Regions from separate parts of the Homo sapiens genome. Here region 1 is linked to region 2. The links come from fine-mapping of genetic effects on gene expression. A gene starts in region 2. The other region holds a variant in brackets. All regions are shown on one strand. Distances are from middle to middle. Region 1 has its middle 7.7 kb from the start of PRDM14. Region 2 holds the start of LINC03020 (long intergenic non-protein coding RNA 3020).

What was found. PIP is the estimated chance that this variant, and not a neighbour inherited with it, causes the effect. A credible set is the group of variants that fine-mapping cannot tell apart.
Region 1: its variant is the best candidate, but not a certain one, in a credible set for the expression of LINC03020 in sigmoid colon (GTEx, PIP 0.73).

Annotation. Positions count from the first base shown.
Region 1 is chr8:70,076,272-70,081,650 of GRCh38, forward strand. It overlaps the pseudogene RNU1-101P. Among named protein-coding and RNA genes, the nearest start is that of PRDM14, 7.7 kb to the left of the region's middle. The variant G/C (reference allele first, on the strand shown) is at 2,542.
Region 2 is chr8:70,468,000-70,473,378 of GRCh38, forward strand. It overlaps LINC03020 (long intergenic non-protein coding RNA 3020), which reads left to right and starts at 3,135. Exons shown (of 4, transcript NR_110653.1): 1 at 3,135-3,846.

The DNA of each region.
Region 1 (5,379 bases), 390 kb before region 2:
AACGCCTTCAAGTCACTTCCCAGGTAATCCCTGTTCCCATTCCCTCCCCCAGTAACTGTTCCATTTTTTTCTTCTTCCAGACATGCGGTTTTGCCTGTTCTGACTTCCTGTAAATGGAATTTTATAGCACATGCTCTTCACTATATATTTCAAGAGGCTTAGCTCTTTGATAGGGGAGAAGCTTTGAGGCACCCCGAAGAAAGCAAACAGCAACCATATTTATGTCCCACCACAGGGGTAATTATTGGAAACCCATTTAGAGGAGTTCAAATGGGCCTTGAAGTTTGGTTCCTGCCCATGCCCATCTTAATGGCTTGCTTTCGCCAAGAGTATATACTGACAGCCAGTGAGGCGTGCCTGGTAGGGACAGTGTTGTCTGCAATGGCAGCCAGTGTGTCCCTGTGTTGGCGGGTGGTCCCACCTGGGACCTCAGCAAGGCCCTCTCCACTGGAGAAACTCTGGTGCTTCCAAGAAACCATCCTGGGAACACCAGAGAGTATCTTCATGTATTTACCTCCAAATCTGCCTCAGTACTTTTTCTTTGATATGGAGGCCCAATTTTAGCATCCTGTAATGGCCGCCTTGAACCCCTCCAAGGTCATGGAATTTTTTTCTTATCTCGATGGACCAGTATTTTTGTAAGGGCCCCCTGTTTAGGGTAAGTGATCAGACAGGGCATTTCTCCTAGCATCTAGATCATTCTAGACCTAGATACTACCTATTCCTTGGGTAGCATTAAGGTATTTTGAAGTTCCACCTTGATAGGAATCCCCACTGAAGTTAGACAGCCTCATTGTTTCCAGAGCACCCAGACTTTATAAATGACCCCAAGACTAATCTGTCTGAGCATGCTAACTCTCTTCTCTCCAGCTGGCTGGCAGGCTCCAGTGAGAGCAATCGCTTCTGCCATCTGGGCTATAACGATGCATATTCTAGGGGTGATTTGAGATCTGTTATGGCAAAGTCAGACTGATCATATCCTGCCTCTGTCTGCAGATCTGACCCATCAACAATCAGGGTCAATTATGGACTCTCCAAAAGTATTTCTATTACATCTGCATGGGGCTTGGACAAATGCCAGTTTGGCATTTTTTCTTTTGAGATGGAAGGAGCATGGCAGAGTTCAAATAACCACAGTGATTGACAGACATATGTATAGGGAAAAGAACAATATTTCTTTTTTCTGTCGCCCAGGCTGCAGTGCAGTGGCGCAATCTCAGCTCACTGCAACTTCGCACTCCCAGGTTCAAGTGATTCTCAAGCCTCAGCCCAGGACTGAGCTGGGACTACAGATGTCCACCACCAAGTCTGGCTAATTTTTTTATTTTCAGTAGAGACAAGGTTTTGCCGTGTTGGCCAGGCTGGTCTCGAGCTCCTGACCTCAAGTAATCCATCCAATCCCAGCACCTCCCAAAGTGCTGGGATTACAGATGTGAGCCCCCATACCCGGGCATTATTGCATTAGTTGTTCTTTCTTCTCCTTCTTCTTTTCTTTTTTTCTTCTTCTTCTTCCTCTTCCTCTTCTTTCTCTCTCTTTTCTTTTTCTTTCTTTCTTTCTTTCTTTCTTTATTTCTTTCTCCTTCCTTCCTTCCTCCTTTCCTTTCCTTTCCTTTTCTTTCTTTCTTTCTTTCCTTTCAATGCAGTCAAGTTTCCTGTATCTGGGGAAATTTCAAGGGTCAGCACATCTGGAGTGCAATGGATAAGCCTCATCCTGGGAAAACCACCTTCATGATCATGGAATCTTCCTGGTCAGGTAAGTATATTGTAACAATATTTCATAGGATGCAAGGTGGCTCAGCTAGAAATGTTGTCCATTTGATTAAGTAGCAGTGATTATACAACTTGGGAGACCATTGGGTTCATGAGATCCCAAAACTAAGTAAGCAGAAGCCTCCCCGAGTTGACAATGACTGCCATTGCCTTGAGACAAGGTAGATAGGCCTTTGCCAGTAGAGTAGGGAGCAGGGACATTACAGTAAACCATGGGTGGTTTTGTTTTTGTTTTTGTTTTGTTGGTTTTGGGACTTTTTTTGGGACAGATTCTCACTCTGTCACCCAGGCTGGCTGGAGTGCAGTGGTGCAATCTCAGCTCACTGCAGCCTCTGCCTCCTGGGTTCAAGTGAGTCTCATGCCTCAGTCTCCCGAGTAGCTGGGATTACAGGCACCTGCCACCACACCCGGCTAATTTTTGTATTTTTAGTAGAGACGGGTTTTCACCATGTTGGCCAGGCTGGAACCCATGGGTGGTTTTCTTGTCATTGAGTTAAAACCTCAAGGACCTGAGCAGATCATCTATGAACCTGGAGAAATGTTTATGGTAAGTTAGAGCAGTCAAGGATGGGGTTTGTTGAAGAGCTAGCTCTAGCGTGTAAAATGTCTGTTCATGCTGTGTTCCCAGGAGAGGCAAGTCTGTCACCAAGAATTTAGTCGGGTCCTAAAGAAGAAGTAATTGCAGAGAAGTTGGGAGCTCCCTGTCCACAATCCCTCATGAGACGTAGCAATTAGTTTTCAGTGGTGAGTTTAGGGCAGTTCTGAGTGGAA[G/C]TTCAGTCAATCAGAGGGAAGAGACTTGCCTGAGACAGATCATGATCTAGATAATGAACCTTTTTTCTGAAAAAACTTCAAGTTTTTTGAGCACCTGTGTCCTTTTGTGCAAAAATAGAAGGTAGAAAGAATTCATTTTTAGTGCTTTTCTAATCTTCAGAGATTAGCAAAAGCTCATCCTATAGAAGAACTTTAAGGTCCTTGAGATTCTGATTAAGAGCTTATTTCATTTTATTTATTTATTTATTTATTTATTTATTTATATTTATTTATTGAGACAGGGTTTCACTCCATCATCCAGGCTGGAGGACAGTGGTGTGATCTCAGCTCACTGCAGCCTTGACTTCCCAGTTTCAAGCAATCCTCCCATCTCAGCCACCCGAGTAGCTGGGACTACAGGTGTGTGTCACCACACCCAACTAATTTTTTGTATTTTTTGTAGAAACGAGGTTTCACCATGTTGCCCAGGCTGGTCTCAAACTCCTGGCCTCAAGAGATTTGTCCGCCTCAGCCTCTTAAAGTGCTGGGATTACAGGGGTGAGCCATCACCACGCCTGGCCTAAGAACTTATAAAAAGTAAGGAACCACAGTGAATCTCTGAGGCATAACAATCCACATGTACTGTGGGTTCTCCTAAGGACAGGAGAACAGGCATTGATTTAAGAGAACAAGTTCGCTGGGCGCCAGTGGCTCACGCCTGTAATCCCAGCACTTTGGGAGGCCGAGGTGGGCGGATCACGAGGTCAAGAGCTCCAGACCATCCTGGCCAACATTGTGAAACCCCGTCTCTATTAAAAATACAAAAAAAAAAATCAGCTGGGCATGGTGGCACACACCTGTAGTCCCAGCTACTCGGGAGGCTGAGGCAGGAGAATAGCTTGAACCCAGGAGGCAGAGGTTGCAGTGAGCTGGGATCGTGCCACTGCACTCCAGCCTGGGCGACAGTGTGAGACTCTGTCTCGAAAAAAAAAAAAAAAAAGAAAAAAAGACAGAGAACAGGTTCTAAAGAAGGAAGAACATAGATGCACAACTGTGAAATAGATGGCCTTGGGCGGGACTGGGGGAAAGAACAAAGTCCAGTATTTGGACTTGGCACTGCTGGAATGTGGGGAATAATTATCTTAACGATATCCCTAAGATCATGAATAAATCTGCGCACTCATGCGTTGAGTTACCTAATACTCAGGATAGGAGCGTGAGAAGGTTTGGTCCAAGGAATAATGAGTCTTTTGCCTATTAGTCCTTCTACTATGGGCCTTAATTTTTTTCTTCTGGCTTCAAGGGAATTGTACAAGGCTGGGTGAAGGTTGGGACCTGGTCAGTCTGAACCTTGATGTGCTCAGCCCCAGTAATCCTAAAATGGTGATACATTTTTGGCTCATTAGGACTTGGTACCTCACAAAGATCTTCAAATTGTGTCTGGTTTATGTATCTGTATCCAAATTAGCTATGATTTGATTATGAATAGAGACACCCTCATGAGTTTCAAGGAAGAGCTCCCTTCTAGGAAAATTTAATCTGGTGATTCCATTTTCATAATAAAGACTCCTCATTAAGTTTATGCTGGTGTGATGTCACAAGAGAAGGGTGTTTTTAGTAAAAAGACCAAGAATAACAGTGGCCAGGATACAGGGAGTGGCCAGGCAGATGGAGACATCCACCTCTTGGTTTTTGCTGACTCCAAGGACAAGAAGTGAACTTAGTGGCAGGGTTGTTGTTGAAAATGTTGCACCCCTAACCCTGAGTGTGGCCCAGAAGAGTTAATGATATCTTCTTGCAAGTTTTAAGGGAAGACTCAGAAGTGGATGCCATCTTCTCTCTTGGAACTGTCTCATTATCTGTCAGATTCCTTTTTGCCCAAAGTGAGACAATTGGTTTTCCATCGTCTCTTTTGTTCAGAGTAGCAGCAAGTATTCTTATCACTGGGCATTTTGCTGGGGGGGATTGTGGAGGTTGTGAGGTCATCCAGTTGTTTAATTTGAAAAACCGTTAAGTTGTTTAGGATCTTACTCTACTTTTGTTCTAAGAGTTTCTCAGAAGATTTGGACACATGCTATAGGGCTGTTAGTGGAGTTATTTCTTATTCTAGCCTTTAAGTACCAAACCCCTGAATTTTGGCTAAAGGCCGTTCATAAGCAATGAGGATAATGTAGCAAAACATCTGCCTATTGATCTATCCCAGACTGTTGTCTGAAGGTGATTTCTAAAACCTTTTCTTTTTTTTGAGACGTAGTCTCCCTCTGTCACCCAGGCTGGAGTGCAGTGGTGCAATCTCACCTCACTGCAACCTCCGCCTGCCGGGTTCAAGAAATTCTCCCACCTCAGCCTCCTGAGTAGCTGGGTAATAGGCACCCAACACCCTGAATACAGTTGGGGTTTCACCATGTTGGCCAGGCTGGTCTTGAACTTCTGACCTCAAGTGATCCGCCCGCCTTGGCTTCCCAAAGTGCTGGGATTACAGGTGTGAGCCATCATGCCCAGCAATTTCTAAAATTTTTAATGAATTTGCTTTAAAAAAAAAATAAAAAACAAACACAAAAAAACTGGATTAATGACCAGAGAATCTCTACTCAAAATAAAGTAGGTATTGCCTTCAGTAAGGATTGCACTACATTTTGTGCTTCTTAAAAGTCCCTTTCTGTTTGCTGGTCCTCAGGAATACATAGATTATTTCCCAGGTCCTTCCAGTGGACTCTTTAAGGTAGGGTTAGCATCTAGATACATGTACTAGGTGATGTACATCAGGGAGATTGGGACCATTGCTTCCAAGCACTATTCTAGATTCTCAGGTTCTTCATATCGGTCATAAAAGGCTGACAATTAAATATTAAACATTTG
Region 2 (5,379 bases):
TAGGATAAGTTTTCTTTTCCATCTTGATTCACCTCACAAATCACCAAATATTCTGTGTCGTGGTAATTTCCTGTGTTCTTAAAAGTATTTACCTCCCACATTACCGAAAAATTTAAAAGACCAGAGTTGACCAGAAAGGCCTAGCCACTTCACAAAAACTTCCCTTTTATGAATGCTTGTGGTTAGTCACATAAGAAATATGTTGAATTCTCTTCATGTGTCAAATTATGTGGGAGGCACTAAGAAAAAGCAAAAACACAATAGCCCTACATCGGGATCACACTCTCACCTCTCTCATTCATGGTATCTGCTCTGGAGAAGTTTATAATCTATTCAAAGCTAAAAAAAAAAACAAAAAACAAACAAACAAAAAAAACCCGGCCGGGCGCGGTGGCTCATGCCTGTAATCCCAGCACTTTGGGAGGCCAAGGCGGGCAGATCACGAGGTCAAGAGTTCGAGACCAGCCTGATCAACATGGTGAAACCCCGTCTCTACTAAAAATACAGAAATTAGCCAGGCATGATGGCAGGCGCCCATAATCCCAGCTACTCAGGAGGCGGAGGCAGGAGAATCACTTGAACCCAGGAGGTGGAGGTTGCAGTGAGCTGAGATTGTGCCATTGCACTCCAGCCTGGGCAACAAGAGCAAGACTCTGTCTAAAAAAATAAAAATAAATAATTAAATAAATAAATAAAGCAGAAACCACCTAAAATGGAGACTAACGTGAAAGTATATAGTTAAGAGCTACATTGATGGGTTGAAATATATATTATAGGAATTGAGGGCTGAGCAATCATTGACTGGATTGGACCTTTCAGAGAAGGTTCTAGAGAACGAAGGAAAGCTTCATAGAGAAGTGGACACAAGACCCAGTCTTAAAGGATGAGGGACGGTACTGCAGGCACAAGAAATTCACTCAACTGATGATGATTCAGCATCAGTTTGGTCACCATTATCGAAGCGTTTTGAATGTGTAGCTGCGACCTAAATAACTTCCCAGAGGTAAATGCATCCTGTAGGTTTACAACAAGCAGTATTATTAAAGTAGTCTATATAAAGAAGCTACTCCAGAAAGAAATTCAAACCCACACATGATTAAGCAAGAAGGATGAATCATACTCAAAATGGAGGAAATAACTATGCAAGACTTAAATAACTACTTGTGCTTAGTTTAAAAGCTGTTTTTTTAAAATCTCTCCCTTTAAAAGCTTTTCTTTACTCCCCAAATCCAATAAAATAATTCTATTTAACTTTATCAGTACAAAACTTACTGCCAAAGAAAATAATCACAATATTTATGTTGCTGTATTAGTTATTGCAAAATTGATAAAAGAAGATGGAACAGATAATGTGCTCTTATTAATACACATGGAATCACTAATCCTGTAACAGTTTTATCAAGGAGGTGTGATTAATGCCATTTTGAGGTGGCACAAGTAAGGGTCAAAACTGACAATAAGCCAAGTTCCTAAGCTCCCGCAGCTTGTAAGTGGCATTGCTACTGGGGTTTGAAGTCTGGTCTGTCTGGCTCCATAATACCACCAAGACCTGCCATAAGGAAACTAAATAGGTGGAGCACAGTGGCTCACGCCTGTAATCCAAGCACTTTGGGAGGCCGAGGTGGGCGGATCACAAGGTCAAGAGATCGAGACCATCCTGGCTAACATGGTGAAACCCCATCTCTACTAAAAATACAAAAAATTAGCCAGGTGTGGTGGTACGCCCCTGTAATCCCAGCGCTTTGGGAGGCCGAGGTGGGCGGATCACGAGATCAGGAGATCGAGACCATATTGGCTAACACGGTGAAACCCCATCTCTACTAAAAATACAAAAAATTAGCCGGGCGTGGTGCCACGTGCCTGTAGTCCCAGCTATTCGGGAGGCTGAGGCAGGAGAATCGCTTGAACCCAGGAGGTGGAGGTTGCAGTGAGCTAAGATCATGCCACTGCACTCCAGCCTGGGCGACAGAGGGACTCCGTCTCAAAAAAAAGAAACTAAATGAAAACAGGTTAAGTAGAAGAAGGAAGCCAGTCTATGATGGTCGACAAATGAACAATACACTCACACATAATAATCTGCGAGGTATACAAATAGATTCCATCTACTATCAATCTAGGGCACATCACTTCCAGCAAATCTTGCTTTTAATTTTAACAGCACTTGCATTATTCACAATACTTAATTTGACCTTTCAGTTTTCTATTTTTACACTGATTTTTACATGAAACTTACACATTAGCGAGAGAAGCACTTTAAATCAATCCCAAACAAAACACAAAATGAAAGTCTCTGAGTCAGGAAAGATTGGGAGGCAAAAGTTTGACCTTGTGAGTTGCATCCATTAGGAGCACTAGCAATCTTTGCCAGCCAGCAGCCAGTAGGCAGAGGGGTGGGAAGTAAACGCCAGGATAACGAGGCAAGACCGCCTCCCAATTCTCTTGAGTTACGCTTCTATTTTATTTTGTTTGAATTTTTTTGGTAGAGATGGGGTCTTGCTACGTTACCAGGGCTGGTCTTGAACTCCTGACCTCAAGTGATCTTCCTACTTCAGCCTCCTAAAGCACCGGGATAACAGGCATGAGCCACCATGGCACCTAGTCTTGCTGGAATTTTTGAGATCAAATCTGCCATGTGTAAATCTAAGTCTTTATAAGAAGCATATTTCAAAGCCAAATACTAGTAATGTTTATATCAGCCGCTATTTTACATTGCTCAGGCAGTGTTCTCTTTCACTAATGCTATTAGCTGAACATTGGTTCAATTGCTTAGAATGGAAACAATTATATGTAATATTTCATAGTTATTGCTCTTGACATATATCAAAAGAGAAGTGACACTGGATGTGACAATTCAAATAAATTCCAATATGGAACACAACTTTTGCCCCCAATTTTTCCTGTGTTTTCAAATAGAGATGCTAAGCTTTATTTCTCATACTACTTATTTGTTGGGTCCTGCTCACAGGACTGGAGGAGTGAGGTCAGTATGATATGGAGTGCTGGGAAGGGAAAAGCGTGGTCCCTTTAAATGATGCGGAATGGAGGAAGGGAAGTGCTGGGTAGAGAAAGGCGGGTCCCTGGCTAAGGCTCCTCCCCGACGAACCCCATTCCTGCTTTCCCGCTCAAATGTTGCATTTTCTAAGACCTCCCTGGCCCGCCATACGCCGATCCTGAACCTACGAAAACCCAAGACTGCGGGCACGGTGGCTCATGCCTGTAATCCCAGCACTTTGGGAGGCCGAGGCGGGCAGATCACGAGGTCAAGAAGTCGAGACCAGCCTTGCTAACATGGCGAAACCCTGACTCTACTGAAAATACAAAAATTAGCTGGGCGTGATGGCGTGCGCGCCTGTAGTCCCAGCTGCTCGGGAGGCTGAGGTAGGAGAATCGCTTCAATCCGGGAGGTGGAGGTTGCGGTAAGCAGAGATTGCGCCACTGCACTCTAGCCTGGCGACAGAGACTCCTTCAAAAACAACAACAACAACAACAACAACAACAAAACAAAACCTCCCAAGACCCTAGTGGGCAGACACACAGCCAGCCAGACATGGAGAGGAGCACATTAGCAGAAGAAGACGCAAGTGGCTGGTCCTCGAGAGGACGTTGAGAGGAGCATGCCAGCAGAAGAGCACACAACGACAGGCACCGACACACCACCGGCAGGCCATGCACCAGCAGAATGATGCGGAGTTTGACGGGGCAGTCAGAGAAGAGCCTGGGCCGCCAAGGGGCCCGACTCCAGGGGAAAACCATCTCCCTTCTGGCTCCCCCATCTGCTGAGAGCTACTTCTACTCAATAAAACCTTGCACTCATTCTCCAAGCCCACGTGTAATCCGATTCTTCAGGTAAGCCAGGGCAAGAAACCCCAGGATACAGAAATCCTTCTGTCCTTGTGATAAGAAAGGGGGTGTAATTGAGCTAACACAAACCGCCTATAGATGGCAACCTAAAAGAGCATCCTGTAACACACGCCCGCCCACTGGGGCTTCAGGAGCTGTAAATATTCACCCCTAGACACTGCTGTGCGATCGGAGCCCCACAGCCTGCCCGCCTGTATGCTCCCCTAGAGGTCTGAGCAGCAGGGCACTGAAGAATCGAGCCACACCTCATCACACACCCTGCGAGGGGGACAAGGGAGCTTTTCCCATATCAAGTAGATTGCCCTGGTGCTGCAGAAGCAGGAAAAACAGGACCTGCCCATACCCAAGAGCCCGGCAACTCTGGCTAGAGTGAGGCCTGAAATTGTGTCCGGAATTGGTGGGTTCTTGGTCTCACTGGCTTCCTCTCAAAATCACGCTCAAGAGACGCCACAGTTAGAGGTAATGGCACCTCTTTTTTTTTTTTAATTTTTAATTATTTATTTTTTGTGAACTGGGGTCTGGCTCTGTCACCCAGGCTGGAGTACAGTGGTGTGATCATAGCTCACTGCAATCTCGAACTTCTGGGCTCAAGTAATTCTCCTGTCTCAGCGCCTGAAGTTGCTGGGATTATAGGCAGGAGCCGCTGCTACTGGGTTTACTTTTTAAATTGTGGTAAAATACACATAACATAAAATTTACCATCCTAATCACTTTTAAGTATACAGTTCAGAGGTATTAAATACACTTAAAATGTTGTGCAACCAGCACCGCCACCCACTTCTGTAATTCTTTTCATCTTGCTGTTAAAATTATGAGAGGCCATTGTTTTGGACCTAGGCCAAATCAGATCAGACCTCTTTCTGCACTAGGCCCCAACAGACCAGACCAAATCAAAATGGAGTCACTCATGCTAAATGAGACATAATCAAAATGAAACTAAGGAAGCTGCAAAGCTTTGCTGCCATTTTTAGATTACTACTTTCCTGATTCAGCATTTTCTTGGTTACAACAAAAACAGACCAGTTTTTTTTTCTCACCTGAAAACAGGAGATTCCAGCATAAAGAGGTCCCTTCTGTTCTAACCCTTACCAAAAAAAACAAAACAAAACAAAAAAAAAACAAACCTGAAGTCCTGGTTCTCACATTTAAAAACTCACTGTTTTGCTATTTCCCACTGAGATTTGAGACCAAATAAGTACACTGACAATGGTGACAGAGTGACATCAATGTCTAAAGTTTTGGCCAATCAAAACTGAGAGGTTGACCAAAAGGGGGCAATTGTTAAATTAAGTTTTGCCTAAAGCTGCCTCCTTACATATTTTAAGTTTGGTCTAAATGTTTCTCCATACACAGTGAACTGTAACCTGACTGGAGGTGTAAACAGACTGTAACCTACTCTTGTGCCAATCATCCAGTTTTGGCCAATCACAGGTAGCCAACTGATCGAATGTGTTCAACACCCAGCTGTAACCAATCAGGCTGTTTCTGTACCTCACGTGTGTTTTCTGTATGTCACTT